Linked DNA regions of Homo sapiens: all the other regions are linked to region 1. Evidence: fine-mapped expression QTL. A gene starts in region 1. Each other region holds a variant in brackets. All regions are shown on one strand. Distances are between the middles of the regions.

Region 1 (8,187 bases):
AACTCCAGCTCGGGTGAAAGAACAAGACCCTGTCTTGAAAAATAAATGAAATAAAATTGCATTCTGAGTTATGGGAAAAATAAAATAAAATGCAAACCAAAACCTGGATAAGGTACCATTTCACACTCATTAGGATGGCTATTATTTAAAAAAAAAAAAAAAAAAAACAGAAAAGAAACTACTGTTGGCAAGGATGTGTAGAAATTGGAAACTTCGTACATTGTTGGCGGGAATGCAAAATGGTGCAGCCACTGTGGAAAACAGTACGGTGGTTCCTCAAAAAATTAAACATAGAGTTACTATATGGCCTAACAATTCTACTTCAGAATATATACCCAAAATAATTGAAAGCAGGCCCTTGAACAGATATTTGCATACCAACATTATTCACAATAGGCAAAAGATAGAAACAACCCAAATGTCCATCAATGGATGAATTGATAAACAAAATAGGACATATACCTATAATGATGCTACTCAGCCTTAAAAAGAAAAGAAATTCTGATACTTAAACGTGGGAGACATAAAGCCAAACACAGAAGGACAAATATTACATAATTTCACTTACACGTGATACCTAGAGCAGTCAAATTCACAGATACAGAAAACAGAATGGTGATTTCCAGGGGCTGGGGTAAGGGGAGAATGGGGAGTTAGTGTTTAATGGGTACAGAATTTTTGTTAGGAATGATGAAAATGTTCTGCAGGTGGATTGTGGTGATGATTGCACAAAAATGTGAATGTACTTACTGTAACTGAACTGTACACTTAAAATAGTTAAGATGGTAAATTTTATATATATTTTACCACAATTAAATTTTAAAAAATGAAATGATGTAATCTTCAAGGTTGAAGATTTATTGCCCTAATAGCAATAGGATGTGGGGAAGGGTGATGGGCTTCTCTTGCCTCCCTCCCTCTCATTGACATCATCTCCTACAACTTTATGACTGGTTTTTGTCTCATATCTGTCCCTGCCCACCACCACCAGATACCCACATTGCTACCTCATTCCTTCATTGTCTTTTGGCTTCCATAGTTTCTGATAAGAAATTTGCTGTAATTCTTATCTATTTTTTCCCCTCTGTATGTTTCCCAGCCCCTTCCTGCTCTTCACTTCTTCACATCTCTGTTCAATGGTCTTTCCTCAAACAGCTCTTAAACTAACCATTCTACTTAAAATGGCCATATTTTTTTTCTGCCTGCTTTTAAGACTTTTCTCTTTATCACTGGTAATAGCCAGCCATGAATTTATAATAGATGGCACCAGTGGTAGGAAGTGAGACGAGAGAAGTTCATCAACCCTTCCTTACATCCCATTGCTATCCTGGTAATAAAGGTTCATCCTCAAGGAGTATTTCTGACTGCTCAAGGACACCACGTGGACCAGAAGAGCCTGTTTTTCAAACCTATGAGATTGTGTAAACTTTCTCTCATCATACACCGGAAGGCCAATTCAGGGAAAGAAGCAGTGGAGGGTATGGGGATGCTATCCTAGAGAGAGATTTTTTTTTTTCTAAAAGACACATGTTTCTTGCAGGCGTCATTTAAATTATGTAATCAAATAAAGCTTTAAACCAGAGTTGGCAGCCCTAAATGGATGTACACCTAATACACAACTTCAAAATACATGGAGCAATGTGAATAGTGATCCTGGAGTTGTGCACTGTAGTGGCTCTGCTTATTAGCCCCTTCCCACTCTTCACTTCTTCACATTATTCACATCTCTGTTCAGTGCTGTTTCCTCAAACAGCTCTTAAACTAACCATCCTACTTAAAATAGCCATTTCCCCAACCATCCCATGACTCTGCTTTATTTTCCTTTGTAGCATTTATTCACAACATACCATTTTATTATTTATTGGTTACTTTTCTGTTGTCAGTCTCCTTCACTACAGTATAAACACCATGGGTGCATCTTCACTGTCTTATTCATATCATATACCCAGTTCCATGATCAGAGCCTAGAACATTCATAGTAGATGCTAAATAATACTTGTTGAATGAATTTATTTATTTACTTATATCATTTAATATGAAGTATGTATTAGTCCATTCTCACATTGCTATAAAGAACTACCTGAGACTGAGTAATTTATAAAGAAAAGAGGTTTAATTGACTCACCGTTCCTCAGGCTGTACAGGAGGCATGGCTGGTGAGGCCTCAGGAAACTTACAATCAGGGCAAAGGGGAAGCAAGCACGTTTTCACATGGTAGCAAGAGGGAGAGAGAGCTAAGGGGGAAGGACACACACTTTTTTTACCATCAGACCTTGTGAGAACTCACTCACTATCACGAGAACAGCAAGGGGGAAATCTGCCCCCATGATCCAATCGCCTCCCACCAAGTCCCTCCCCCAACATTGGGAATTATAATTCAAAATGAGATTTGGGTGGGGACACAGAGCCAAACCATATCAAAGTATACAGCTAATATTTATAATTGTTATTTGAGTTTATCTTTTTCATTTTTATATTTTTTCCATTCATTCTGCAATTCCCTAACTTTGTGTCATGTATACAGTCAGCTTGAGAGGTGGGGGGGAGAGAAAAATGTATAAAGTAAGAGCTCCACAAAGAAATCCCTACTTCCTGTGGAATACAATTCGAAGTCCTTTGCAAGCAGATTGGACATTCTAAATCCAAGGGAGGCAATAAAGTTTTATTTTAATTTGTATTTATTGATGTATTTTTTTTTGAGTCGCAACCTCACTCTATTGCCCAGATTGGAGTGCAGTGGTGCGATCTTGGCTCACTGCAACCTCTGCCTCCCGGGTTCAAGTGATTCTCCTGCCTCAGCCTCCCGAGTAGCTGGGACTACAGGAGCCCGCCACCACGCCCAGCTAATTTTTGCATTTTTAGTAGAGACGGGGTTTCACCATACTGGCGAGGCTGGTCTAGAACTCCTGACCTTGTGATCCGCCCGTCTCGGCCTCCCAGAGTGGTGGGATTACAGGCGTGAGCCACCGCGCCCGGCCAAGTTTTATTTTTTTAAAGCACTCAAGAAGTTAGGTTTGTTTCTAGAAACGTGGAAGCATCCGTCTGCTTCCTTCCAGCGTCCCTTTGCTTCCTTCCAGCCTCCCAAGGAGCCCAATTCCTTAATTTTCCCTACAGAGAATAGCACCAGGTCCAAAGCAGCCTGAATCAAAGCTCCTCCTTTGGTAATTGACAGCTGAGGGAAATCCTACTGAGGCCCACCCCCACCCTCCTCCTTGCTAGGCTGACAGGCAAAACTCGGTGGCAGTGGCTTCCAGCTCAGCCAATAGACGAAGCGGGAGCAAGAGCCTGTGTAAACAAACCCAGAGTGCGGCGCCTTGGTCTCCTCCCCCACGAGTGGGCCGGGCGCATCCTTGGCCCAATGCCTATCCCAGGCTAGCGTAGCGTCCTTTCAGCCAATCAGAGCCGGCATCTCCCTCAAGGAGGTGTTCCACCACAGGAAAAAAAAAATGAAGGAAGAGAAAAGACAGACATTAAAACCAATCAGAAGCTGAAACTTCTGAGGGAGTGGGCGGGCACTGCTTCACATTTAGACCAATAAAAACCACATATGCCATTCTAGGTGACCGAACGGCATCTTCTTTGGCCCAATAGACGAATGGGGCGGTGCCCGGCAACCAATGGCTTGGGTTCGGGGGCGGGGCGAGGAGGCAGTGTGCAGTAAGAGATAACCTGGCAAGTGGTAGTGGCGCTTCTCGGGTGCTGTGCTTCACGTTTTGGTACTAAAGGCCGAGACTGTTGTGGCGACGGCGACCTCTACGGCAACGGCTTAAGCTCTCGGAGGAGTGGCAGAGTACGATCTGAAGGAGGGGCTTCTGGTTAGCCCAGGTGGGCTCGGGTGCCCGGGCTGCTGGGGAAAGGACTCGAGGGAAACGCCGTTCTCCCGGCTCTGGGGGCGCCCTGCGCCTCCCTTTCTGCCGCCGTCGGGGCTGTGAAGGGCGGCACGCGCCTGCCCGAGCTCCTGTAGGGAGGGAAAGCGCGCGGGGTCCCACGTCGCGGCCATCGGCGAAAAGGGGCGTCCGCTGGGGTCAGCCCCTGCCCCTCGGGAGCAATAGGGGGTTTTCGTCCCTTTCCCCCCCGCACAGGTGCTCTGTTTCCCCCCGACTCCCACCCAAGTTCCTGACTCCCCTCAGCGTCCTCCTAACACTCGAACCGAATTCTTGGCCTGAGTCCCATTTCTACCCAGGTGCAACAATGCTAGGCAAATTGACCCGCGCGGCATCCCCCGCCCCTCTCCCCGGGCTGGAGCGGGAGGGATTGCGCGTCGTGCCCTTCCCCTATTCGCGGCCCCTGCGCGTCCTCTGCCTTTTTATACTTGCTCCATCTCCCCCTTGACTCCAGCCCTCATTCTTCATGCCTCATTTGCCTGGGAGACGTTCGCCACTTCTCTTGTGCCTTGCGGTCCGTGAGTGAGCCCATCACCCCCTACCAACCCCTAAATTCCATTCTCATCTCTCCAGAAAACTAACATTTTCCACTTGCCTCTTCCAGGCAGCTGGAAGGTGAACTGAGAGAGGCAGAATACGCAGAACAGGGAGTTTGGCAAGGTTGGGAACTTTAATGTTTTGTTCCTGGTAGACTGTTTTTGCCTTCAAATGGCATTTGACCATTATACCCGCTCTAGAATCTTTGTCCTAATGCAGTTCTTTTGGTGGTAATTGCTGAAAATGCAGTTGAAAAGGGCTAACTAGAAGCAAGGGATTTAAATTTTGTTACTATTATTTTCAGTAAATTGAATTGGATTATACTTTAAACAGCTTAACTGGGGTTTCTGGGAGTTTGTAGTGTAAGGGCCTGGCTACCCTACTTTGTCATAAAATATAGAACATACTTAGTTGTACAGCACAGTGTGATTCGATCACACCCAACCTATGAAGGGATAATAACAGCATTGAATCTGTCCAAAAACAACATTCCCTGTTCCCTTTTCACCTTCATAGTATATTCGTTTGGTTTCTAGTAATGTCGGTTCTAGCCATATGTTTTTTGATAACAGTACAAACTATGCTGTGCCTAAGTAAAATTATGCCAACAATTTTATGGGGAAAAGCTAATGCACTGCTCTTAGCTTTGATTAAGATTTTAGACGTTTGAAAATATAAATTCAGATATTGGACAGTGAGGGTTTTATTTTGAAGGTTGGAGGAGATTGAAGTGTTGGGGTAAGACTGATAGGCTCCTCTGGCTACTTGTATATCGGGGTGGGGAGAATATACAGGTTTACAAAATCTTGTAAATTCTCACAGTGCTTAGTTTCCTGACTTTTCAAAAATTGGAATTGTTTTTCCTAGCTTTCAGTGGAGAAATGTAAGCTATGAGTTTAACATCATGTTCACTGTGTTTTGGCCAGGATTTTGCAAGCTTTTGTGGAAAAAATTATATTGCTTTCTTTATCCTGTTTGTAATGTATGTATCAGTATGCTTCCTTGTATTTTACTGTGGTAAAATTGTATCTTGTATATAAAGAAAAAAGTCTATTATAGTGAATTAAAAGAAATCTTTACTCTGAGGTGGCAGCCTTGTCTAATGGACCATATGTTTAAGCCTTGTTAATAAATCACACTAGAGCCTAGCACAGTGGTGTGTGCCTGTAATCCCAGCCACTTAGGAGGCTGAGGCAGGAGGATTGCTTGAACCTAGGAGTTTAAGACAAGCCTGGGCAACATAGTGAGACCCCATCTCAGTCAATCAACCAATCAATCAATTACACTAAAAAGAGTAAGATCTTAAAACTGTTCCAACAAATGTCTGGGTGTCTAAAACAAGGAAAAGAGTTTATGACAGAGTTACAGCAGTCATCAGAGAAAAATCCTGGACAAATTGCAAATCTGTAACAGTTGTGAATTGCTGTGACTGCAGCTGAAAACCAAAGTTATTTTTGTGCAGTCTTTTTTGGGAGTATTTGTGTTTAATAATAACTTGTTTGCAAATTTAGAGGACTCTAGCTATGATTTCTTCTTAGAGACCTTGAGGAGCTCACAGTTTAATGGAAGAGAGAACTAGAAACCAATAATTAAATGCAGAGAGTGAGGTTCTGCAGTAGAAGGTATATACAGGGTGCAGAGAAGCACGATGGCACTGTGTTCTGATCTCATCTCCTACTGCTCTAGACTTCCTGAAGTGCCATTTCCTGAACCTACCTGTTTTTTTCCACCATCTGGACCTCTCTCTGTATGCACCATTCTCTCTCCTTGCAAGCCTTTTCCACACCTTATGTGCTTGGTGAAATTCTGTTTCTTCAAAATCTTGAAGCCTGCCTCTGCCTCATCCAAATGTTTTGCCTACTTCTCTGTTATTTCTTTATAAATAATTATAGTCAATTCTCATTATTTGCAGTAGTTATATTCTATAAAGTTGCCAAGAACACTGAATTATCAAATATTCAACCCTTGTTCCCAGGGAAAATATATACATATATACATATCTCACACAGATTACAAAATTAATTCCTAAAAACAACTCATCCTGGTAGATTGAATTTTCCTTACTTACAAAAAATAAAGGAAGTACAGAAGTGTTAAGCGATTTGCCTGAGGCCTCTCTACTAACAGGTGCCAGAGTTAAGATTCAGACTCGTCCAGATGGCCCCAGAGCCAGAGCTTCTTGCACTACGCTGCACTGCCCTCTGCTGTCTCTGTCCTCTGGTCATCTTTGTATGAGGGCTGAGACAAGGCTGAGGGTCACCTTGGGACTTGGGCAAGGAGTGACATATTTTTCACTACTATGTGTATATCCATAAGTCACCTTGAAAGCTCCACAAGTATTTGGGGATTACAAAGACATTTTAGCAAGTAAGCAAATTTGCAAATATGGGATCCACAAATAATGAAGATGAACTGTATTTGTAAGTGACTGCTAGGGTCTGTTTCATGGTAACCCCTTTCCCCAACAATGTGGACTATTTCTTTAGCTTATTTGATAGTTTGTACATTTATTCATAAATTTATTCAGTTATCATATATTCATTCATTCAGTTTGTTCATTTATCATATATTAAGCACTTACCATAAGTCAGACTCGGCTGAGCGTGGTGGTTCATGCCTGTAATCCCAGCACTTTGGGAGGCTGAGGCAGGTGGATCACGAGGTCAGGAGTTCAATACCAACCTGTCCAGGATGGTGGAACCCTGTCTCTACTAAAAATACAAAAAAATTAGCCAGGCATGGTGGCAGGAGCCTGTAGTCCCAGCTATTCAGGAGGCTGAGGCAGAGAATTTATTGAACCCAAGAGGTGGAGGTTGCAGTGAGCCGAATCGTGCCACTGCACTCCAGCCTGGGTGACAGAGTGAGACTCCATTTCAAAAAAAAAAAAAAAGTCTGTGTTTTTGTTTGTTTGTTTGTTTTTGAGATGGAGTTTCGCTCTTGTCACCCAGGCTGGAGTGCAATGGCACGATTTCAGCTCACTGCAACCTCTGCATCCTGGGTCAAGCAATCCTCCTGCCTCAGACTCCAAGTAGCTGGGATTATAGGCTCACACCACCACACCCAACGAATTTTTGTATTTTTAGTAGAAACAGGGTTTCACCATGTTGGCCAGGCTGGTCTCGATATTCTGACCTCAGGGAATCCACCCATCTTGGCCTCCCCGAGTGCTGGGATTACAGGCGTGAGCCTCTGCATCCAGCCTCAAACTCTGCTTTAATCTGTGGTGAACAAGCTGGAGATTAAGGTCCTGCCCTGTGGATTTTATATTTGCCTAAGAAAGACAGATAAGAGCTAAGTCAGGAGCTCTGGGGAAAGGCCCAGGTTGGAATTATAGATTCACTTGACCAAGGTAAACCTGGTGTGCCTGCTCCTACTTCACATCCCCAGACATACTTCCAGAACATTTCCTTTTGTATTTTTGTGTACAAACTTCCTTTTGAGCCTCTCTCCATTGTCACATGTCAACCTCTACTTGTCTTTTGTTGATTTTGAGGCCACTTGCCCATGTAAGTGGCAGGATATTATAGAAGAATCATGCTGACCTGGGTCTTTGAATTCTGGTTCTGCTACCTACCAACTGAGTTCCTTTGGTCAAGCTCTTGGACTTCTGAGCCTGTTTCCTAATTCCAAAAGTGGTATATGATGTGTTAGTCCCTGGTGGGTTGCAAGAAAGAGGCACACACATATCAGCTTTGGTGATGAGGGCTGAATGTAAACTTGGATGGAAAGTCATCTAAGCAGCCATATTGTCTCTTGGCCCTAGTAC
Region 2 (8,187 bases), 190 kb after region 1:
GTTGATATTATTCCCAATATCACAGAAAGTGTACAAACCTGTGTGATATTGTTCGTACTATCCAGAAGAAGGGAAGATGATATTACCTCCCATATCGCAGGAGGTGGACACCCACTCTGTGATATTTTTCCTAATATGCAGGGCGGGCGAGGATAATATTCTTCTTAATAGCGCAGGGTGTGTACAGCCCCCCCAGTGATATTGTCCTTAAGGTTCCAAGGCGGAGAGAATGATATGACTCCCAATACCGCAGAAACTGGACACCACACCAGTGACATGTTTTCCATCACCCAGGAGAGAAAAGGATGACACTACTTTCAATATCGCATGGGGTGGACACGCCCCCAGTGATATTGTTCCTAATTTCAACGTGGGAGAGGATGATAATACACCCAATGGCACTGGGGGTAGAGACACTCCTGTGATATTGTTGTTCATAACAAGGGGGAAGAGGATGCTATTAATGCCAATAGTGCAGATGATGTACACCCATGTGTGATATGGTTGGTAATTTCCAGAGGCGGAGAAGATATTCCTCACAATAACGTAAACAGGCTGTGTGACCACCGTGGATCGTAATAACCAGGGGGAAAGGGGGGGATGATATTACTCCCCGCATCACGGGGGGCGCCCGCCCCCTGCCATGTGGATCGTCATATCGGGGGGGAGAGGGGGGTGATATGACTCCCCGCAGCGCGGGCGGCGCCCGCCCCCCTGGGATGTGGATCGTCATATCCGGGGGGGAGAGGGGGGTGATATGACTCCCCGCATCGCAGGGGCCTCACCCCCTTGCGATGGGGATCCCAAGAGCCAGGGGGGGATAGGGGCTGGCTCTTACTCCCCGTACGGCGGGGGGGCCTCACCCCCCTGCGATGGGGCTCCTAAGAGCCAGGGGCAGAGAGGGGCTGGCTCTTACTCCCCGTATCGCAGGAGGTGTGTACAACCCCTGAGATATTGGGAGTAATATCATCCTCTCCCCCTGAATATAAGAAACAATATCACAGGAGGATGTACACCCCCTGCGATATTGGAGGTAACATCATTTTCTCCCCCTCGGGATATTCCGAACAATATCACAGTGGGTGTGTACAGCCCCTGCGACATTGCCGCTAGTATCTTCCTCTCCCTCCCAGGATATAAGGAAGAATGTCACAAGGGGGTATACACCGCCTGCGATATTGGCTGTAATATCTTCCTCTTCCCCACTGCCCTTTAGGAGCAATGTCACAGAAGGGTTGTACACCCCCTGCTATATTGGGAGTGATATCATCCTCTCCGTCCCTGGATATTAGGAACAATCTCCCTAGGGAGTGTACACCTCCTGCAATATTCAGACTAATTCATCCTCTCGCCGCCTGGATATTAGGATCAATATCACAAGGGTGGTGTGCACCCCCGGCGAAATTGGAAGAAATATCATCCTCTCCACCTTTGGATGTTAGGGACAGTATCACGGGGGAGGTCTCCGCCCCCTGCGATATTGGGAGTCATATCATCCGCTCCCACCCAGGATATTAGGAACAAGATGACCGAAGGGATGTACACCCACTGCGACACTGCGATATTTTCAATAATGTCATCTTCTACCCTCTGGCTATTAGGAGTAACATCATAGAGGGGTGTCCACTTTCTGCGATATTGGGAGTAATATCCTCTCCCCCACGGATATCGGGAACAGTTATCTCAATTATTAATATTAATAAATATAATAACAATTAATAGTAATCATCGATATTAATAATTACAGTAGAGACAATAAAACATCGGGATTAAAAATATTAAGGGTTACTATTAATAATTAATAGCAATATCACTATTAATAATACAATAATGATATCAGTAATTAAAGTTACTTCAATCAATCATAAGTGATGTTGGTAATAAAGTAATAATTAATATTAAGATTAATAACTAATAATAAAAGTGACATTAATATTAATAATTAACGTTAATCATGCATAATCCTATCTTGAAAATAATCATTAATGATTAATAACGTTATACTATTAATTAATACTACCATGGCTAATTATTAACAAGACTGATGTTTAATAATTCATAATATTATTACTGCTAATGCCGCAGGGGGTGTACAACTACCTGTGATATTGTTCCTAATATCCAGGGATGGAGAGCATGATATTAGTTTTCATATCACAGTAGGTGTACACTCACCCTGTGACACCGATCCTAATACCCAGCGGGTAGAGTATTACATGACTGCCAACATAGCAATGATTGTACAGCCACCCGGTGATATTGTTCCTAATATTCACGGAAGAAGCGTATGATATTACTCCCAATATCGCAGGGAGTGTACACCTCTTCTGTGATATTGTTCCTAGTAACCCGAGGGGGAGAGGATGACAATAATTGCAGCATCGCAGGGTGTGTTCACCCAGCCTGTGAAATTGTTATTAATATCCTGAAAGGGAGAGGATATATTACTCCCCATAATAGATAGATATGGCTCCCCATAATAGAGCAGGAGGTGTACACCCACCCTGTGATATTCTTCCTAATATTCAGAGGCCCAGAGGTTGATATTACTCCCAATATCGCAGGAAGTGTACACCTCCATGTGAGATGGTCCTTAATAATATTCCAAGGCGGAGGGGGTGATATGACGACATATATGGCAGAAAGTGGACACCCCTCAGGGATATTGTTCCCATGATCCTGGAGGCAAGACGATGATATTACCTTCAAAACGACAGAAGGTGGACACGCCCCCACTGATATTGTTTCTAATTGCAACGTGGGAGACGAGGATATGACACGCGACATCGCAGGGAGTAGAAACACCCCTGTGATACTGTTCTTAATATTCAGGGGGGAAGAGGATGATATTACTCCCAAAACAGACGGGTGAACACCCTCCATACACCGAGGGTGTACACCCGTCTGTGAAACAGTTCATAGTCTCCAGAGGGGGAGATGATATTACTCACAATATGGTAAACAGGCTGTGAGTCCACCGCTGATCCTAAAAACCAGGGGGAGAAGAGGGGGTGGCTCTTACTCCCCGCATCGTGGTGGGTGCCTCACCCGCCTTGCGATGGGGGTCCTAAGAGCCGGGGGGGAAGAGGGGCTGGCTCTTTCTTACTCCCCGCATCGCGGGTGGTGCCTCACCCCCCTGCAATGGGGGTCCTAAGAGCCAGGGTGGGGAAGAGGGGCTGGCTCTTACTTCCTGATTTTTCCTAGGATCCTTTCTATACTGCCACCCTCGGTTCGCACCCTGGGACATTATCTTCCATATTCTAGCAAGATGCGGCTGCTAAAGTCGC[G/A]GGGGGTATACAGCCTTCAATATTATTCGTAATTTTGTAGGGGAATTGTAAACCTGATGTCACAGGACTCTGTATACTGTGATGTTATTCCCAATATCCTACCTTTACCTTAGTAATAATGTCACATTGTGTGTACACCTTGTGGTGTTATTCTTATTCTCCTAAGGAGAGGTTGCTTTTATTGTCACATGGGGTATGTTCCTTTTGATAGTATTCATAATGTCCTAGAGGGATGTCACTCCTTATGTCACAGGGTTTGTACGCCTTGTCAAATTAGTCGTATTAACGTCATAAGATGTCACTCCTTATATCACAGAGGGTGTACACTCTGTGATATTGTCGTCATATTCTAGGGAAATGTTACTTTTAATGTCACAGAGGTTGCACACCTTGTGAAATTATTCGCTATAATTTTGTGGGATGTTACCCCTAATGTCACACGGCGTGTGCACACAGTGATGTTACGTCCGATATGCTATGGAAATGTTACTCGTAATTCACAGGTCCTGTCCACCCTTTACTATTCTTCGTAATCTTCTAGGAAAACGTTACTGCTAATGTCACAGGGCCTGTAAACCCTGTCATAAAATTCCTAAAATCCTAGCGGGAGTTCACTACTAATTTCACAATGCGTGTACACCCTTTGATATTATTCGTATTGTCCTGAAGAGATGTTACTCCTGATGTCCCAATGCAGGTACATTCTCCGATCTTATTGGTTATATCCTCGGGGGATGTTACTTGTAATGTCACAAGTGGTCTACTCCCTGTGTTCTATTTCATCATATCCTAGGGCAATGTTACTTTTAATGACACAGTGGGTGTACACATTGTGATATTATTCGTGATATTCTAGAAAGATGCTACTCCTAATGTCACAGGGCTGTACACCCTGTGATAGTATTCATAATTTCCCAGGGGTCTATACTCCTATTGGCACAGACGATAACACCCTGTGACATTATTCATAATATTCTAGCGAGATGATACTCCTCATGTCACAGGGGGTGTACACTCCGTGTTATTATTCTTACTATTCTAGGGGGATGTTACTCCTAATGTCACAGGGATGTACACCCTGTGATATTATTCATAGTGTACCAGAGGGATATTAGCACTAATGTCACGATGCGTGTACACCTTGTGATATTATTTGTCATATCCTAATGTCACAGGGGGTGTGTTCCGTGTGATACTCTTCCTAACATCCTAGACGGATATTGCTCCTAACGTCACAGGGGGTGTACACCTTGTCACATCATTGATAATATCCTAAAACTATGTTATTCCTCAGGTCACAGGGGGTGTTCACCCTGTGATATTTTTCGTCATAGTTTTGTGGGATGTTACTCCTAAAGTCACACGGGGTGTACCCAGAGTCACACAGTGATATGAGTTGTAATATTCTATAGACATGTTACTCGTAAATCACAGGGGCTGTACCTCCTGTGATATTATTCGTAATATTCTAGGGGAATGTTGCTACTATTGTCACGGGGGTGTACACCCTGTGATATGACTCATCATATCCCAGCGGGATGTTACTACTAATGTCACAATGCCTGTACACCCTGTGATATTATTTGTAATATCCTAAAGAGATGTTACTACTAAGGTCACAATGCATGTACACCCTCTGATATTATTCATTATATCCTCGGGGGATGTTACTCCTAATGTCACGTGGGGTGTACTCCCTGTCATATTATTCATAATATCCAAGGGGGATGTTATTTTTAATGTCACCGGGGGTGACGTTACACATTAAAAATGCGTATTCAACGCCTGTGATACTATTCCTAATATCCTAGGGGCATGCTCTTCCGAATGTCGCATGGGGTGTACACTATGTGTGTACACCTGCTGTGATATTATTCGTAATATCCTAGGGGAATGTTACACCTGATGACACAGGCGGTGTACACCATGTGTGTACCCCTCCTGTGTTATTATTCATAATATCCTAGGGGGATGTTTCTTTTAATGTCACAAAGAGTGTACAAAACGTCCCAGAAGGTGTACACGTTGTGACGTTATCTGTAATACCCTAGAAGGATGTTACTCCAATATGTCACAGGGGTGTACACGCTTTGATGTTATTTATAATCTCATAGAGAGATATTACTTCAAATATCACAGTGGATGTACACACATAGTGTATACCCTGTGATAGTATTCGTAATATCCTAGGGACATACAACTCCTGATATCACAGTGCGTGTACCCCGTGTGTGTACACCCTTGATATTAGTTGTAATATCCAGGGTAAATATTACTCCTCATATCACACAGTGTGCACACCCTGTGATATTTTTCCTCCTACTTTAGGGAGATATTGCTTCTAATATCACGGTGGGTGTACCCCATGTGTCTATACTCTGTGACAGAATATTCTATATCCTAGGGAGGTATTACTCCTAATATCACAGTGGGTGTTCACCCTGTGATATCATTCTTATTTGACCTTGCTGCCTTTTTAACCTACACTACAAAAGGAATGGAACAGATAAGAAGATATTGAGATTAGACCGTGCTGCCGTGCGGCCACCGCAGGACACTTTTAATATCCCTGTTTCTCAGGCTGTAGACAAAGGGGTTCAGCATGGGGGTGACCACCATGTACATCACTGAGGCCACTGCAACCTTCCTCGGGGAAGATGACACATCTCAACTGAGGTACCCTCCAACGCCTGTTCCATAAAATCAGCAAACAACTGACAGGTGAGACCCACAGGAGGAGAAGGCCTAATACTTCCCACCTGATGATGAAACCCTCAGAATGGAGGAAACAATTTTATAGTAAGAGAAAAGGGAACCCGAGATGGGAAGAAAACCAAATATGGCAGCAGGGAAATACATGATTATGTTATTGGTGAAGGTGTCACAACATGCAAGATGGGGGAGTTGAGAAGGGTCACAGAAGAAATTAGGAATTTCCACATCCTTGAAGCAGGTCATTTGTAAGGCAATCAAGTTGTGCAGCTGGGCATCTAAAAGACAGAAAAAAAAAAAAGACAACAAAACTAGAAAGCCACAGAAACACGGGTTCATGATGGCTGAATGATATAGAGGGTGACAGATGGCTACAAAGCGGTCAGAGGCCATCACACTCAGGAGCGTGTCTCTCTTCCATGCCTCCAAAAATGGCAAAGGGAGACATCTGAGTCAGGCAGCCTGCATAGGAGATGACTCTGCTGTGAGATTGGATGTCCACAATCATCTTGGCTACCGTGGTGGAGGTGAAACCGATGTCAGGCAAGGACAGGTTGGAGAGGAAGAAGTACATGGGGGTGTGGAGGTGGGAGTCAGGGCTGACGGCCAGGATGATGAGCAGGTTCCCCAGCACCGTTACCAGGCACATGGACAGGAACAACCCAGCAAGGACCAGCTGCCATTCTGGATCCTCTGAGGTTCTCGGAGGAGGAATATAGAGACATCTGTTAGATTCTGTGGGTCTGTAGAGATTGGACACCTTTTGCCTAGAAAAGAGGATTGAGAAATCGGAAACAAGTAAACCAACACCCAGAATCATGTCTGCATTTTGGATAGAAACAATTCGCAAGTAATGTTTTCAGATTTCAGAGCAAGCCACATTCAGCAATACTTTGCAGTTCTGACAAACTCAATTGTCTTCTAATGCTTTCATCATTGATTTCTGTGTTATTCACTTCTTGCTGTACACACCTGCCTCAGAGACACTAGATTCAAGAATGTTCCAAGAACCAGATCATCATATATAACAAATTCATAATTGCTAGAAAAGACAGCCTATCTTTACCGAAGGAAACTATGTAATAAAACCATTCTCTTCACTGTAAGAAAAAGGTTATCCTAGTGAAAGGAAATTAAGAACTCAAATATTTTATTTTATTCGAAGAGATTGATAGAAATTCCCTTGATTTAGAACATCTGTAAACACTGTATAACTGCTGAGACCATGCCATCTGGAAATGAAATTAAAGTTGATAGTTCATAAGCAGAAAATAGTTCCACAGGCCAGTTAGGTCCTAGTGATGTCATCAATATGTTTTCTGACTTTTCTCCTTCAAGAGAGTAATTTCTTACTCAAATCGGTGGGTCTTGTTTTAAAATTCATGTAAGCTGTAACTCCTGTCCTTAGCTTCGGTGGACTTAGAGTTTTCATCAGAACGTTTGGCCGGACGCGGTGGCTCACGCCTGTGATCCCAGCATTTTGGGAGGCCAAGAAGGGTGGATCACGAGGTCAGGAGATCAAGACCATCCCGGCCAACATGGTGAAACTCCGCCTCTACTGAAAATACAAAAACTTCACCCAGTATGGCGGCGCGCGCCTGTAGTCCCAGCTACTCGGGAGGCTGAGGCAGGAGAATGGCTTGAACCTGGGAGGCAGAGGCTACAGTGAGCCGAGATCACACCACCGCACTCCAGCCTGGGCAACAAGAGCAAAACTCCTTCTCAAAAAACAAAAAACCAAAAACACACGCTCTGTCACACTGACGTCACACCGATGACAGCCAATTTTTGTGAACCAAGGAAGTGTCAATTCAACAATTCACATAGATGTTTACTTTGCTATCTCCTTGATGCCAAGCAAGATATAGGCTCTGGGGAATCAGAAACAAAAGAGACTCACTTGTTCCTCTCACAATACTCAGTACTTACTGAGATAAGGACAAAATAAAATGTCCTGTCCGGAATGCAGGGAAACCAGAACTTCAGGTCAGGGGACATTTCCGTTGAACCGTATGGAGTTTAAGCTTAAAATACTAACGAATGTATCTAAAATTCACTTTGCCTTTACTTTACGCATCCATCACATAGAGATCACGCAGCAGGCACCCACGATTGGTTTAATCATCGCTCACTTCCATTGGATCAACTAGAAATCAACTCAGATGAGAGTGCTGAGTCTCAGAGGATG
Region 3 (8,187 bases), 40 kb after region 1:
GTTTAGGGCAATGTTTAAGAAATGCAGAATTGTTTGAATATTCATATATTTCATCTTTTGAAAGAATACTACATTGATTATGTAATTTTCTATTGGTATGCCAAAAAGTGTTCTTTATGTCTTCCTAATGTTCTGAAAGTATTTTTCTCCCTTGAGGGTTTCCTTACCCAAAAAATGGCCAGAAGCTGAGAGCATTGGCTTTGATTTTATCTCCACTAGCCAGGTCATGAACTAGTTATATACTTGCAGTATCTTTTTCATATTTCTTATAAAATGGGAAATTTAAGAAGGGTTACTTTGTAACAAGACTGAGAAAAGAATTTTAGGCTCTAAAATGATTTTCCATGATATCTGTATCACCTATTAGAGATCGTAGAACATCTGCGGAGACCTTGAATTTCTGTTACTGTGAATAACTATTTTCTTAGTCTTATTAGTGATAGAATTTGGTTGAGAAAAAATAAAAATTATGCTATCTCTAGCTAGTCATTAGGCGCATTGAATCCTTAGATCCCTTGGACCTCATGTAAGATCATAAAATCTTTTTTTTAAATATATTTTTATTTTTTAAAGAATCGGGGTCTCATTCTGTCGCCCAGACTGAAGTGCAGTGGCGCAGTCTTGGCTCAATGAAGCCTTGACCTCCTGCATTCAAGTTGTCCTCCAGCCTCAGTCTCCCAAGTAGCTGAGACTACAGGCACACACCACTATGGCCTGGCTAATTTTAAAATTTTTTTTGTAGAGGCAGGGTCATGCTATGTTGCTCAGGCTGGTCTCAAACCTCCTGGCCTCAAGCAATCCTCCTGCCTCAGTCTCCCAAACTGCTGGGATTACAGTTGTGAGCCACCACACCCAGCTCAAGATCATTCTTAATTGCAGAGTAATACCTTCTGAAGGAAAGAGGTGGAGGAAAAACTGGAAGGGGTAAGTCTTGCTGTGACAGTAAGTCTGAGCTGCTCCCCTTTGCTTGCTAGGTGGAGGAGGAACTGCAGGAGCAAGACTTCTTGGACCGCTGCTTCCAAGAGATGCTGGATGAAGAAGACCAAGACTGGTTTATTCCCTCACGAGACCTGCCTCAGGCCATGGGACAGTTGCAACAGCAGTTAAATGGACTGTCAGTCAGTGAAGGTCATGATTCTGAAGATATTTTGGTAAGAGCCATATGTAGTTCCCCAGGTTATGTAGTGAAAAGAATATAGGATTTGGAATGACAGACTTTCTTTCCAGCCCTACAACCCTCAACAAGTCTGGAGCCCTGTGAGCTGTTGTTTCTTTGCTCGTTTTATGGGCATTATTAATAAGGGGTGCATTAAAGATGCATTGCTCCTCATAAAGCACTATAAAACATTACTGTTGCCAGCATCACGGGCTTTTTACTTGCCAAGATTGGACGCCACCAACCTTTACTTTCTAATGGGCTCTTCAAAGTAGAATTGGGATTAAGGATAACAATTTGAACACTGAAGAAGTTTCTTCTCAAATATCATTTGTTGCTATTCTTCTCTTTTACTGTCCCTCAAATCTGTATTTAATATACTTCTAAATGATTCTGTTATAAAAATTAGCTGTTCATTTTGGAAGAAATGTACTCCTGAGAGGTCATTTTCTCCACTTAGAATTAGAAAACCAGATAAATTAATTTCCTGCCTTTCATATTTATGTAACATCAGAAGTCTGTGAGCAGGCTGGGCACGGTGGCTCACGCCTGTAATCCCAGCACTTTGGGAGGCTGAGGCGGGTGGATCACCTGAGGTCTGGAGTTCAAGACCAGCCTGGCCAACATGGAAACCCCATATCTACTAAAAAAATACAAAAATTAGCCAGGCATGGTGGTGCGCGCCTGTAGTCCCAGCTTGGAAGGCTAAAGCAGGAGAATTGCTTGAACCTGGGAGGCAGAGGGAGGCGGAGTTTGCAGTGAGCCAAGATTGCACCACTGCACTCCAGCCTGGGCAACAGAGCAAGACTGTCTCAAAAAAAAAAAAAAAAAAAAAGTCTGTGAGCAATATAGTTTTCATACAACTCATATTCTGAACAATCTTGCCCTGTGGTTTGCTAAGGTTTTGGATATTCACAAGAGAGTAGAGAACCAAAGAGAGTACAGAAAGATGAAGAAAAATAGAGATTGTGGTATCCAGCCTGGTCTGATGGAGTACCCTGGTTTTCACCAAGTTAAGGTACTCAGTGAATTGAAAAATTATTCTTGGAGTTGAACTTACAGGCCTCTGATGAGATTTTGGAAAGCATCAGGAAGGAAACAAGAGTCCAAAGAAGGAAGGAGAAGATGAGCTTGCTCAGGGCTATGTCAGGTGCAGTTGAGATAACCTAGCAATAACAGCCTGAGTTACAAGGAATTTTCTTTCTCTCCCTAAAGCTAAGGGGAAGGTACTGATAATGATGGACTGGGTAAGTTTTAAAATGCAGCTTGCCTTAGGATTTACTATCTCTTGGTTCTTATTTCAGAGCAAAAGTAACCTGAACCCAGATGCCAAGGAGTTTATTCCAGGAGAGAAGTACTGAGCCGAGAAAGCTTTGAGGAAGACTTGTCTGTCCCCACATCTGGGGATAGTAATGCACAAAATGGTGGAGCTGAAGAGGGGGATGGGGCGGGCGAGGGGTGCACAGCGGGAAGGGGAGTGGTGGTCTCACAATACTGTGACTCTGAGTAACTAATATGCTCAGTCTTATTCTAAGCCTCTGAGTATTTCTATTTTGTTCTGCTGACTTTTGTTTGGGGAGTTTCCTGTTTTGTTTTTTTAAATAGCTCTTTCGAGTTAAGGAAATTGCATTTTCCCCCCTTCATCAGAAGTGTTCCGCGGTGTGTATTTAAACAAAATAAGCTGACTAAGAAAAACTGGATATTTAGGAAATGCCCCTCTCACCCTGCTGTATACTTATCAGGGACAGTGAGCACCTGGAGAGCTTTTTGTGGAATCTATTGAGTTGGATGGGAAAAGGGACAAGCAGAAAGAGCAGGTGGTGCAAACTGGAATTTGAGGCTCAGCTGCCCCACCCCCGGGGTCTCCTGCAATGAACTCGGATAACCAATGTGCTGTCAAGCCCTTGCCTGTTTGTCCTGAACCCCATTCAAGAAAACACAGACTTAAAGTACTTAGTTTACAGTAACTTTTGATGATTGTTGAAAGTTGTAAATCAGAAGGTAGGGCTGTGATGGTGGTTGTCACTTGAGTCATTTAGTTACTGTTGTCCTGTTCATAAGCCTGTGTTCACCACCACCATCAGACTCACCATTTATAAGTAGAAGAGCACTAGGGTTGATCTGCCACCTCATCTTTCATGAAGTCTATTCCCCAGCCTCCTTTTTAAGAAAAGATACTGCTACCAAAGGCATAGGGGAGGCCTGCTGTGCTGGCAATTAGCATGAGCCTGCAGAAGTCATCCTTGAATCTGTTGTGTCTTAATTTTATTTGGACAGTTTTTTTTTCCAGCCTCATCAACACTTGGTCTTCCTGGTGTCTTAATTCCCTCAGACAAGTTTATGCACTTTTTTAAGGAAATATTTTTCAGGACACTAGTAAGAAGCTCAGTTCACAGTTTGGATATTTCTTCCCACATTACAGAATTATGGAAAGGAACTCAAAATCAGCCTAGGAAAGTGAGTCCTGCTTGACCCATGTGACTGTGTACCTGACCTTCTGGGATCTTTTCAGCTATTAAAACATTTTACTGTTCCCACATACCCAGCTTTGCAAGTTTTGTAGATTGACCTCTTAGGGTGTGTTTCTTTGTCTTTCCTGCCTTTAACTTGCTGGGGTCTTTTGTTGCTACCCCTAAGGAACTAAACTGGGTGCCAGGAGCTACCTTCGTGTATAGAGATGTAGATGGCAGTGTGGGGTACAGGAGAGCCATCCAGGCCATTCTCCCAGGGATGAGGAATTGGAGAGCCCTGAAGATAATAGTGGCTTCTTTCTGATTGCTACTGTGCTGTGTGATAGGCCTAATAGGGAAAAGATATGTAACTTGAAACAAAGTTGGTATAAATTCAGTATGTGGCTGTGGGACAGAGGTTGGAAGGAAAGGACTAGGGTATGGAAAGCTGAAGAAATTCTCCTTATGAGCTCTCGTTGACTTTTTGAACAGTGATAAGCTAATGCCAGATTTAAAATACACATTTTTTCCTATTTGAGTCTTTAGGATTATATCATTTGAAAAAATTGCCTTCCTTGTTAGGTCACATGTCATAGGAGAGTAGCTTAGAGAACTTGCATTACCAGACAGACACATTAATTCCCAAAGCCTCTATGTTGAGAGAATGAAACTGTTAACTCTTTTTCAGAGAGGACTATGAATAAAGAAACTTCTTTATTCAAGCTTCAGCTTTCAGCTGGGTTGTTTC[C/G]TCTAAAAGGGAAAGGGCATTGCAAGTGCATAGAGGAAATCTCTCCCTTCTGGGACTGCTTTTCCTCCTTCATCCTCGTGAGCCTGTCCAAGCTCAGAATTCCGAAGGCTGTTAGAAATGCGTTGGGATTGCAGAGAGAAAGGAGCTTGTCTTTCCTTCTGCTGTGCTGGTCTGTTTTGGATGTCAGTCTTCAGGACTATGAAAACTTCCTGCCAGTTTAGCATGGACACTGAGGGCTGGCATTTCTAGTCTTCTTCAGACACTGAACATACTGACTCCAGGTATAGGAAGCAGCTAGCAAATTGATTCTTTTTTAAATGCATAGGACTCTGCTTCCGGCGGTTCCTCTTGTAGTCCAACTCTTTTTGCCATCTATTTATGTTGGGAGGTAGGGGCACAATTGTCACTCACAACACAGGCTAGTTAGAGTTTGCTACCTTCTTAGCAGAAAATGCATGTGTGTCTTGTTGGACCTTCACTGGGGAAAGGCTGGGAGCCTCTGGCTGTCAGTGACTTTTCTCACAGAAGAAGAACCAGCAAGCCAGACTGGACACCTTTACCCTTTAATGGTAAGACTTGTATTTATAAGGGGTAATTTTGATGTTGAATTTAAGCCACTACTTTGTTTAAACTTTTTTAAATTGGCAACTAGAAGTTTGAGAATTTGTATAGAAATGGAACATGTATTTCTAACAGTTGCCAATCTGGCTGGTCCCAATGTTAGTTTATTAGTGATTGATCTGTAATTATTGGGATTATTTATTCAACTCTAAAATTCCAAGATGAAAATAATTTATCTCTTTCTTTTCAAGGGAAAAAACCCAAATGAATGCATTTTCAGTTTCTCCAGGCCTTTGAACTGCAGCAGAAAATTCAAGGATACAGCCTAGGCCTGGGCAAATGCAGCCCTGGGTCTTTGGGCCAGTTTCTGACAATAATAGTTGAGTTTTGGGAATCACATAAGGGTGAAACCAGAAACGATCCTAAGGAAAGGCTTGACCTTTGTTAACACCTTTAGTTTCCAAAGTCACAGCAGCTGGGGTCCCTCTTTTTTTTTTTTTTTTCTTTTTTTTTGAGACATAGTCTCACTCTGTCACCCAGGCTGGAGTGCAGTGGTATGACCATAGCTCACTGCAGCATCAAATTCCTAGGCTCAAGCAATCCTCCCATCTTAGCCTCCCGAGTAGCTGGGACAACAGGTACGCACCACCACGGCCAGCTAATTATTTTTATTATTTTTATTTTTTGTAGAGACTGGATCTTGCTCTATTTCCCAAGCTACTCTTGAATTGTTGTGCTCAAGTGATTCTCCCATCTCAGCCTCCCAAAGTGCTGGGATTATAGGCTGGGTGTGGTGAGCCACCCCAGCCTGGGGTCTCTTTAATTAAGGTTATAATGCTAACCATGGCTTAAAATACTAAGCAACATTTTCCAAATTGTTTATTACTATTGCTTTGATTTTGGAGAAGCTGGGAAGTAAGGAGGTGAGGTGAATACTCTGATAATTAACACGTGTTAGAGAGGAAAGTTGTGTGAAGAGGCTGCCAAAGTAAACAGCACGAATGAATCTTCTTGTACTAGGGCTGCTGCAAACCCCAGGTAGACAAATGACAGCCCAGGCTCCTGAACCATCAGGAACCCAGGAATCTACCCAACTGTGAGGAGGGGGCAGGCCTTCGTCAATAAGGGTCCCACCATCACGGGCTAATAATCTTTCTCAGTTTAGGTGATATTGAGGTATTGAAACTGTTAGAAATCTGACAGATTTGACCAAGATTTGGAGACGTCCACATAATTGGGAAGGACTGAGTGTCCCTAGCCACTCTCCTCTGGGATAACGCGGACGTCATTAGTTTGCGAAGTGGGTGGGGAGAACAGGAGGATTGACTCTAATTTGGTGTGTAGTGGGGGCCTTGATGTCCTTCTGCCTCTGTCCACATTTCCCCATGTGACTCATTGCACCCTGCATTGCTCACAGGGATCATTAGTTCTCCCGGTAGACAGAGCACCTCTGCAGCCTCTGCTCTGCTGCCTTGTGAATTTCCTACACAGACTTGGTTAGTTACAATTTGGAAACAGTTTTTTTGGGTTTTTTTCCTTTGTTTTAATCTTCTCACAATGAAGCTGCTATTGGTGACAGGGACAGGGGAGCAGGAAGCCAACCCAGGGAAACATGCGAGTTTCCTGCACACCACTTAGTCACCTGCCCTCACTGGCCAACCCCCTACTGCTGTTCCCAGTCAGTCTGGTTTTTAGAGGCATCGTGGCAATAGAATAGCTGGATACACTAATCTCTACAAGGTGTCAGGCAGGAGATTCACCTTCCCCAGTCCCAGGGGACAGGAGAGAAATCTGTAAAGGGACAGATGCACCATCTTTATTTCAAAAGAAAAAGCTCCCTCAGATTGTGTTACTAGGAGTCTCTTTTGTGACATTTACTGAGCTTTCTCCCCAATCTTACCTTCCTATTGGCTACTTTTTAAATAAAAATAAACATTTTAGGCTAATATGACAAAAATGAGATAAAATCTTAAAAACATTGTACTAGTGTACAGTTACTAAAATGTGCTTACTACAAAACAGTAAAATATTTCACTCTGTAAATCATCACTAAGTAGTTATTCTGTCCTGTTGATTATGAGCCTCCAAAAATGTTTAATGCTTGAAGGATGGTTTGGGAGGCAGGGAATCCTTTTCTTAAAACAACTTTAATGAGGCATATGTTACATATCATAAAACACCCATTTCAAGTGTACATTTCAGTGATTTTAGTAACTTCCCTCAGTGGTGTAGCTGTAACTATTACTCAGTTTTAGAACATTTTTATCCCTCCCAATAAGATCCTTCATGCTCTTTTACAGTTAATCCTGTTCTTACCCCCGGCAACCACTAATCTACTTTCTCTATAAATTTGCCCTTTCTGGACAGTTCAAATCAATGGAATCATACAATATGTGGTCCCTTGGGTCTGGCTTTTTTACTTAGCTAATGTTTTTGAGGTTTGTCCATGACAGATAACGTCTTGGTAGTTTGTTCCTTTTATTGCTGAGTAGAATTCTGTTGATGGATGTACCACATTTTGTCAGCAGAGAGCCTTTTAAACTTGGATTCCAACTTCCTGTTGTCTAAACGGAACCCTCCGAACGTAGGACTTATAGGGGAAGCTGCTGTGCATGTCAAAAAAACTACTAATCAGAATGAGCTTTGTCATCCAGAGCCAGAACTGCTGCAGAAATTTTTATAATTTTGCAACTTCTTTTTTTACAAGGAACTTTTGTGCTACTACACATCAGGACTTTTGAAGCATCCAATAAATCCATTTAATAAGTATGAGCATGTGTCTGAGTGGACAAGAAAGTGAAACCATCCATGCTACATTGGATAATTTTTCCTCCCCCAGACTGGACAGGGAATCTCAGCTTTCAAAACAGAGTAACCTGGCTCCACTTACAAAGCTGCACAGGCATTAAAGATCGTGCTGCCTTTGTTAGGCAGATTTGGAGGGGAGGCCCAACAGCAAAGATGGAGAGGAAAAAGGGAGTGGAGCTTGTGGAACAGGAAGCCCCCCAGGGTCTGTGCAGGGCTGCTCAGCTCTTGAGGATGTTGTGGATGGTGAAGTGGTGATGGTGTCCCGGAGCAGCCCAGCACCTCCACTGGGCCCAGAAGGTCTTGACTTCGGACACTTACCCCTGTTTCACAAGTGTTTATAAAGCTGTTTTTGCTTTTTTTCCCCTAATCATTACTTGGTAGTTATTAATCCTTCTTTGGGGGAGGGACAGGGCTTTAAAACTGAAGAAAATAATTTTCATAAAAATATCAAAAATGGAAAAAAG

Which allele goes with the higher level. Alleles are on the strand shown, and positions count from the first base shown. SD is a standard deviation of normalised expression in the study named.
For the expression in amygdala of the gene that starts at base 3,650 in region 1, A is the high allele of the variant in region 2 and G is the other (small effect, 0.26 SD a copy in GTEx).
With allele G in place of C in region 3, the expression in spinal cord of the gene that starts at base 3,650 in region 1 is higher (small effect, 0.31 SD a copy in GTEx).

What was found. PIP is the estimated chance that this variant, and not a neighbour inherited with it, causes the effect.
Region 2: its variant is fine-mapped to the expression of PAIP2B in amygdala (GTEx, PIP 0.98).
Region 3: its variant is fine-mapped to the expression of PAIP2B in spinal cord (GTEx, PIP 0.97).

The regions. Positions count from the first base shown.
Region 1 is chr2:71,222,566-71,230,752 of GRCh38, reverse strand. It overlaps PAIP2B (poly(A) binding protein interacting protein 2B), which reads left to right and starts at 3,650. Exons shown (of 4, transcript NM_020459.1): 1 at 3,650-3,825. RefSeq lists enhancers at 3,365-3,504, 3,720-4,220.
Region 2 is chr2:71,036,292-71,044,478 of GRCh38, reverse strand. It overlaps the pseudogene OR7E46P. Among named protein-coding and RNA genes, the nearest start is that of NAGK, 28 kb to the left of the region's middle. The variant G/A (reference allele first, on the strand shown) is at 3,288.
Region 3 is chr2:71,182,809-71,190,995 of GRCh38, reverse strand. PAIP2B (poly(A) binding protein interacting protein 2B) reads left to right here. Exons shown (of 4, transcript NM_020459.1): 3 at 975-1,151; 4 at 2,461-8,187. The coding sequence ends at 2,517. Among named protein-coding and RNA genes, the nearest start is that of PAIP2B, 40 kb to the left of the region's middle. RefSeq lists enhancers at 6,032-6,531, 6,532-7,033. The variant C/G (reference allele first, on the strand shown) is at 4,355.